Homo sapiens: one gene and its partner. The protein of the gene in region 2 interacts with the protein of the main gene of each other region in a pairwise test. Each region holds a gene or a part of one and is shown on either strand. Other genes may lie near its edges.

Region 1 (3,801 bases), on a different chromosome or scaffold from region 2:
GTGGGGAAAGCCCACGCCCTCAAGCACAAGGTGGAACCGGTGTACTTCAAGGTATGCGCCCCCATCTGCTGCAGAGCCCCCACCGCCCACGCGTCATGGCCATCTGCAGCTCGCAGGCTCTGCGACGGCTCTCTGGAGCAACAGAGGTGATCCCCGGAGTGGCTGCGAGAGGGAGGGGCAGTGCCCGGCAGCAGGATGGAGGGGCTGGGTCCAGGGCAACCCTTGTCCTGAGAGCACGGGGTTCCCAAAGCTGCCAGACTGTTGCGTTAGGAATGATCCTCTCGGCCACACGTGGGGCGGAGGGGCCTGGGGGTTGCAGGACGCAGGGCGCCCGGGCGTTCACTCCCCCTTCCTCCCTTTGCCCCCAGATCCTCTCTGGGGTCATTCTGGAGGTGGTCGCCGAGGAATTTGCCAGTGACTTCCCACCTGAGACGCAGAGAGCCTGGGCCAAGCTGCGTGGCCTCATCTACAGCCACGTGACCGCTGCCTACAAGGAAGTGGGCTGGGTGCAGCAGGTCCCCAACGCCACCACGTGAGGAGGCGGGCGAGGGTGGGCTGGGCAGCCTCCCCGCCATGTCCTCTGCTGTCCCCGAGGTCTCCCATATCTCCTGAGGCCCTGGGGCTGATCACCTGGGCAGGCACACTTGAGGCAGGCCAACCCTGGGGTCTGACATGTAAGAACAGGCATAATAGGAAAGGCCTTCAAGATGGCTCCCCTGTGACTTCAGGCTGCTCAGAGCCATGAGCCCTGAGCAAAAATCCTCCCAAAGAGCCTTCCCCTTCCCTAGAGCCAGGGAGAGCTCAGAGCACCCAAAGCCACAGCTGCCCAGGCAGAGAGGCGCCAGAGGCTCCTGGCGGTAAGGTCCGATCATCAGGCTCGGAGGCAGCCCAGGTCAGCCCAGCCACTTCCTCCCTGGGTGCCAATCACAAGGGGCTGTTTTTTCATCTCATGCCGACCAGTGCTGCTAAATGCCCTCTGCCTCAATAGGGCTAGAGCCCGGAGGATCACGAGGACACATACACACACACACACACCCCAGCCCACGAGGAAGCTACATGGGTGTCGCTCACACGCACACGAGCAGGGGCATGTTTACTTCCAGGCTGACCTGGAGGCTGGGCTTCCAGTTCTGGGCCCAGGAGGTGGCTCAAGGAGGGTGGCCGCCCTCTGTGACTCCTGCTGACTCGGAGCGTGAGGGGAGGGCTAGCCCCCAGATGTGGCGGTTGGGAACACTCGGCCTCCCTGGGCCCCCAAGGGGAGGCTGACTCTGGGAGCTGAATGGAGAGGCGGAGGCAGGGCTGGAGTAGGAAGGAGGAGAGGAGCGGAGGCGGGAATGGGAAGCAGAGGTCAGCCAGCAGCCCGGGACACGCGTGGTAGAGAAACATTCCCGTGGTAGAGAAACATTCCCAGCAGTTTCCCATGGAAAAGGCGGCGTCTCCCGCCGGGCTCTGCACGGGCCCCCAAGACTGCCGGCCCTTCTGTTCACAGGCACAGCTCCTGGAGGAGGTCCCCTGAGGGCAGCTGGGGACGCCAGGCCTCCTGCCCTTCCTGCTGCTGACCACACTGGCCCCGGGCTGGCTCCTGCTCCCCTCCCCCCTCTCCCGTCAGCACCACCCCAAGAGAGTGGAGTCCTCGGGAACTGCTGGCTGGAGCCAAGCCAACTCCAGATGTGCACAGCTGGGCCCTGGCCTGCCTGAGACCTGGGAGTCAATGGGAAACAAGCAGATGTTGGCCCACCAGAGGAGGGCACTGGCAGGGCGTGGAGAGCAGTGGTTGCCCCCTCACCCCCCACCAGCTGTCACCCAGAGGGTCCAGGGAAAAGACAGGGGAAGAGGAGGGGAGGGGGCTTGCCTGCCCTCCCACCCCTCTCCCCACGCAGGCTCTGCTGCCAAAGATGAGTTTGTTTACAGCCAGGACACAAGACTTCCTGCTTCCAGAGAAAAGGGCTTTTTTACAAGGGCCAAGAGAGACTGGAAAGAGAGCTGGCTGGGCGCGAGCCCCAGTGAATCAGAAACACATGGCCCAAGTTCCCCAGCACGCTGCCCGTCCTGCCCTCCCCACCCTGCCCTAGGGACTAAGATCTCTCCAAACCCCAAACATTTTGAAACGGCCGAAGTCTCCTCCTCCGCCCACTTCTGCTCCTTGTGGACTGAATGGAGATGGGCTACCGTGGAAACTGGCACCCCATGGGGGTTACTCCCAGCTGTCAAGTGGTGGGGTGGTCCCCTCATCCCTTTACACCCTCTAGCCCACCCCTAGTGTCCCTGGCCTGAGCCTGCAGAGCCTCCCTGCTGCCAGGGTCCCCATGGGCTCGAGGGTAGGATGGAGTTACAGAGTAGAGTCCTAGAAGGCCCTCGCCCAACTTCTCTTATCAGGGAAGCAGGGGTGGGCCAGGCGCCACTGTTTATTGAGCCGTCTCTGCTCCAGGGTGTGCGCCTTTGCGTGGGTGGGGGGTGGGGGGGGGGCGCAATGACTGCAGGGGGCGCTGTGTGTACCGAGAATACGAGAATACAGATGGGTGGCCCGAGGAGGGACGAGACAGGCCGGACAGAATGCGCCACGTTTCAGAATTAATGGAAAAAGAGCTCACATTGGTATCGTGCTTTGCAGTTTGTGAAACACTTTTTTACCCAGTTTATGTCACAAGACAGACATTATTCACATTTTAGAGAAAAAGATCCGGAGCTCCCATGGGCCAGTAGACTTGCCTGAGATCACACAGCACGTTCGTAGCAGGACGGAGACTAGAACTTGGGTCTCACGGTTGCTTTCAACTGCACTGTGCCGGATCTCTTGGCAGGAAGTGAGCCTCGCCAGCCCCAGGTCCTCCCCCTTTCCCCCGAGGGTCCTTCCCTGCCTCTGGTAACGTTTGTCCTTCCCTTCCTATCTCGTCCACAGCCCACCGGCCACACTGCCCTCTTCGGGGCCGTAGGACCCCTAACTCCACCCCCCTCCCTGGCAGCACCTCGAGCAGAAGGCCGAGTTCTGAAGACCCTCCTTGACGCTCCATTTCTGGGTGCCAAGGAAGCTGGAGGAATCCCTGACTCAACTTCCCCGAAGGAGGCCTCTGTGGCGGCCAGGGTCCCCCCCTGGAGCTGCTGGGAGGCGGCGCTGGCTGCCTGGATGCTGACCCCAGCGCGGCGGGCAGAGCGGGGCCCACTCTTCTTAGCTTTTCTACTCACTGTTAGAGAGAGACCTAGCTGAGCGGCTGGCAGGAAGCGGGACAGGTCTAGGAGTCCCTTAGGGAATAAACCAGCCCCGTTTCTATCAGCCCGGCCAGCATGCAGGTCTCCACATCACCATCTAGAGTATCACGCACACATCTACCATATATACAGATATATTCTATATACGAGCTATATATAAATATATATATACATATATATATACACACATACATATCTAGAATGTGTATCCGCGGCGCCCAGAAGCCTCGGTTTGGCCCACCTGTGAGTGGGGCAGGGAGGGGTTCCGGTTGTGCAGAGAACAGAGTGTTCTGGCAAAGAGGAAATCCCACAGCAGCGCAGAGGACCTGGGCCTGGAGGGGCAGGGCTGGGGCAACCCGGCTTGGCGGCAAAGCCCAGCCCCTTCTCAGACCAGCTCCCCACATTCCTGAATTCCACTTCCAGGCAGAAAGGAGTGGGCTCCCCCTACTCCCTCAGAGGAACTGACTCACCGGCTGTCCTAGAATGGGCAGGGGCAGAGCGAAGTTCTGGGTGGGATGACCGCACTGGGGGAGGGGCCTCAGTCCAGAAACCTCGACCGCTAGCTCCACCTGCCTTGGCCACCAGGGCAGCCCC
Region 2 (4,446 bases):
TGTCTGTTTATGTCTCTGTCTCCCAAAGACGATGGTATTTATGTCTGGAACACAGGAGGTACTCAGGAGACACTGGTTGATTTGCACTAAACAAAGACTCTTCATGAGGCTCTCTTACTTTTTATTTTATTTTATTATGATGATGATGATTTTTGAGACGGAGTTTTGCTGTTGTTGCCCAGGCTGGAGTGCAGTGGCGAGATCTCAGCTCTCTGCAACCTCTGCCTCCCAGGTTCAAGCGATTCTCCTGTCTCAGCCTCCTGAGTAGCTGGGATTACGGGCATGCACCACCACGCCCAGCTAATTTTGTATTTTTAATAGAGATGGGGTTTCTCCATGTTGGCCGGGCTGGTCTTGAACTCCTGACCTCAGGTGATCCTCCCACCTCGGCCTCCCAAAGTGCTGGGATTACAGGCATGAGCCATCACCTCTCTCTTACATTTTATATGGGGCCCTCCCAGCTCCTGGAGCTGTGGCTGTCACCCCCCATCTGATGGAGGGGTCAGGTGAGCCTTGTGGGAATCCCAGAAGCTGGGGACTGGGAAGGGCCCTGTTCAAGGGGCTGGACGCTCCCTGTGGTGAAGCCCAACTCTACCATTTGTTGATTGCACAATGTTGGCACAATGTTGGGCAAGTTATTTCACTCTGTGAGCCTCAATGTCCTCAACTGGAAAATGGGGAGAAGAATAATCTCTACCTCACGGAAGTAGTTCATGTTAGTTCATGTGAAATCAGACATCTAAAAGTGCTCTGCGAAGCAGGCAGGAAGCACCGGCTGTGCCCTGCCTTCACTGGGATCACTCTGCCCCCACCACAGGGACTTGGGAAACTGCTTGGTTTTACCATCCAAGAGACCTGGGGGTGGGAGATAAGGAGCAAACCCTCTACTTCTTCAAGCCCTCACTCCAGCAAATCCTCCAGGCAGCCAGGCAATGCTGAAGTCCCTGTCCAAGGGGGTCTAGGCTGAGCCCGGGTGGAGTGGGTTCTTGGGCCAAGGTGCCTGGAGGGGACTGAAGGCCTCTACCCAAAGTCCTCATGAGAACTGGGTGGGGGAGCCTGTGTTCAGGTGAGGGGTACGGAGGCACCTCTGTGGCACAGCCTTTGCGAGGAGGGCTGTGGAGGGAGACCTCCGGGGCCGGGGTCGAAGGACATCGTGTGGGCGCGACCGCAGTGCTGGGCGGGGGGCGGGCGCTTGGGCTTGGGCCCTGCGTCCTGTGCGTGTTGGTTTCCTGTGGGCACGTGGGGCCCTCGGAAGAGGGGAGGAGGGTGAGCACGTCCTCAGAGGGCAGACCCAGCGAGGCGTCGTGGCAGCTGCGGCCGCGGAGACGCCGGCTCCGCCTCTTGCACACGCCCCCTCGCCTGAGGCCCCGCCCCGCCCGCGATGCCCCCGCCCCCTTCCCCGCCCCGCCCCCCGGGGCGCCGAGACCCGCCCCTGGGCCCGCCCCCGGGTCCGCCCCCGGCCTCCGTTTGCGCCGGGTCTGTGCTGGCCGCGCGCCTGGCGCTCCACGCTGAGCCTCTCCGTGCAATGATTAACCCGGCGGGGCGGCCGGCGCGGGACCCGAGACGGAGGCGCGGGGCCGGGGCGGGACCCCGCAGGACCGCTCGGCTTCCTGCTCTCGCCGGAGTTTCCGCGTAGAGGGCGCATCGCCGGCCCGGGGCCCTTGGTGCGGCGTGGCGCAGGGCGCGGCGTGGGGCGCGCGTGGGCGCGGCGCAGGCGGCCCGGGTCACCATGAGGACTCTCCGCAGGTTGAAGTTCATGAGTTCGCCCAGCCTCAGTGACCTGGGCAAGAGAGAGCCGGCCGCCGCCGCGGACGAGCGGGGCACGCAGCAGCGCCGGGCCTGCGCCAACGCCACCTGGAACAGGTAAGGCCGCGCCCTCCCGGCCACCCGGAGGCCCTGGAGCCGGGGGAGGGGACCCCTGAGCCGTCCGCGGGCTAGGGGCCGCCCCGAGCCAGGAACGCTGCCGAAGGCGGCGCGGCGCTTCACAGTTTGCAAAGAACTTGCCCCGCCGGAGTGGTGCGGGCCTGGAGGAAAGTTCAGTGCAGCGTGGTTCCAGAACCCAGGGAAGGGAGCGAGGCCCGCCAGCGCCCGGGGCTGGCCCAGAAGCGCCCGGCGGGTGGGCGGCGGGGTGGGCCGGGAAGCCGCGTGCCCGCCTCCTACCCGGGGTCTTTCCACGTCTCCACTGCGGTGCTCGTGACAACCTGGGAGGCTAACGGAGCAGGAAGTATTTTTCCCATTTTGCGGCTGAGCACGGGAGCCTCGGGGCTCAGTGGGTGGGTCGCGCAGGCTTCCTGTGTCTCTTTAAGCTCCCTTCGGCTTTCCCTTGAGAGGCCCCCTGTCCTCCAGCTGTCAGCAGGGGGTGCGGCAGCTGCGAGGCATTCTTTAGAGGACTCTCCTCCAGGGGTCATTCCCAGACAAGCAGGGGCCTGGGAAGCCCCTTCTCCCAGCTTTGTTTGAGGAGCAAGTCCGGGATCTGGAAAAGAGACGGTTTATTTAGTGGAACTCCCCAGCGTCTCTGCTCCCTAGGAAAATGAGAGGCAGGAGAAAGTGAGGCAGGCTGTTCGCGGGAGGCAGTGGACACTGTTCGGGGGAGGCTGTGGACACTGTTCGGGGGAGGCTGTGGACGTTGCCCCTCTCGCGCCCACACCTGGCAGTAAAATCTTGCCAGATGCTCCACCGGCTGTGGTCTTGGCCACCGGGAACCCGGCTGTCACTTGGACACACGTTATTTTCAGTTCATTGAATGCATTGTGAGCGTCATGGTGGGCTCAGGGCTGCCAGCGAGACCCTCTTCAAACGTGGTCTCTTCTGTCTCTGAGTTGCAAACTGCTAGAGGGCTGTCACATGCCTGCCTCCGTTTCCCTCTCCGTCAGTGGGTATTCGCATTCCTCCCTGTGGGGAGGGCTGGTGTGGGAACAGTGAAGGAAGGACTCCTGTTGGGAAATCTCCCTGACCCAACGACTGCACAGTGTCTTAAGAGCTGTGTTCTCCACCAGGCACGGCGGCTCACACCTGTAATCCTAGCACTTTGGGAGGCCAAGATGGGAGGATTACTTGAGCCAGGGAAGTCGAGGCTGCCATGAGCCATGATGCCACCACTGCACTCCAGCCTCGGTGACAGAGCAAGACCCTATCTCAAAAAAAAAGAAGAGCAGTGTTCTCCTCCAGTATTGAGATGAAAGCCATCTCTCTGTCCTTGAATCTCTGCCGTGATTTAGAGGAAAGAGTTAAATAGACTTATTTCAAATCCCAACTCTGCCTCTTCCCTACTCTGTGGTCTTGAGCAAGTCAGGTCCTCAATTTCCTTATCCATAAAACGGGCAGATAACAGTGCCCACCTCATGGGGCTGTTGTAGGGATGAAATTTGAACATGCAAAATAAAGCCCTCAACACAGTGCTTAGCACATAGTAAGTCCTCTGTACCTCACAGCTCAACCCCAGACTCACGCAGTGGACCAGTGTCGGGGTGTCCCTGTAGGGATGGCATTTGGAGGGCTCCACAGGAATCAGTCAGTTCCTGAGCACCCACTGACAGCCACTTGGTGAGCTCCCTCCCACCCCCGAGGTGGGGCGTCCTGCTGCGGGTCCCCAGACAGGTGGGGGCACTGGCTGGTTGCTGGCTTAGACACTGCCCTCACCCAACCTTGGGTGACCCTGGAGTGGGCTCTGAGTCTCAAGTGTCTTCTCAGAGTTCAGGGAGGCCTCAGGGGGACTCTGCCTGAGCAACCCCCGCCCCACCAGATTTCACTCAGCAGCCTGGCAGATTGCAGAGAAATGCCAGCCCCTCCCCGCGGCACCTGCAGGGCTCCAGGTCTCCCAGCCCTTAGGCCTACATCAGCTCCCACCACCCCAGGCAGCAGGGGCACGGCCATTTCCTGCACTCCTCTTATGTGCCAGGCCCCAGGCCAGCCCCGTTCACTGCCCTTAACTGACTTTGCCACTCTCCTAGCCCAGCGAGGTATTACCAGCACCCCCCACCGAGAGATGCAGAAGGGCAGAGAGAGCACCCAGGAGACATGCCCAGCTCATCCATCACCTGCACAGGATGCAGCAGAGCCTGCGCCCCAGCTCTCCTCCCCAGCAGATGTGGGAGATGGAGCCAAGAGAAGGCAAACTGGCTTCACCAGCCAAGTCCCTGAGTGGAAACTGCAGGGAGCAGGGCACCCCTTCTGGTCCCTGTCTGCATGCTCCTGCTCCTAGCGGTGCTCCCTGCCAGGGCCCCCTAGGACAACAGATCTGTGCAGGGTCGGGGACAGGCGTGTCATTCTGCAGGGCCTGGCCGTGTACTCCTCATTATGAGTCCAAGACACACCCCCTTTTATCTGTGTGACTGTATTAGCTTCCCAGAGCTGCTGTAACAAAGACCACAAACTCGGTGGCCTAAAACAGCAGAAATTTGTTCCCTCACAGTTCTGGAGCCAGAAGCTTGAAGTCCAGGTGTCGCT

The links.
Region 1: the proteins of PRR5-ARHGAP8 (region 2) and CYGB interact in a two-hybrid assay, tested with the Homo sapiens proteins (one large-scale study listed by BioGRID).

The regions. Positions count from the first base shown.
Region 1 is NC_000017.11:76,527,710-76,531,510, reverse strand, and holds part of CYGB (cytoglobin), read left to right. Parts: coding exon 1-51; intron 52-368; coding exon 369-532; intron 533-1,489; coding exon of another isoform or gene 1,490-1,559; exon of another isoform or gene 1,560-2,893; intron 2,894-2,899; coding exon 2,900-2,933; 3' UTR 2,934-3,801. UniProt on the Homo sapiens protein: Probable multifunctional globin with a hexacoordinated heme iron required for the catalysis of various reactions depending on redox condition of the cell as well as oxygen availability.
Region 2 is NC_000022.11:44,700,746-44,705,191, forward strand, and holds the start of PRR5-ARHGAP8 (PRR5-ARHGAP8 fusion protein), read left to right. Parts: upstream 1-1,458; 5' UTR 1,459-1,729; coding exon 1,730-1,863; intron 1,864-4,446. Other genes in the region: PRR5 (proline-rich protein 5), read left to right, coding at 1,747-1,863.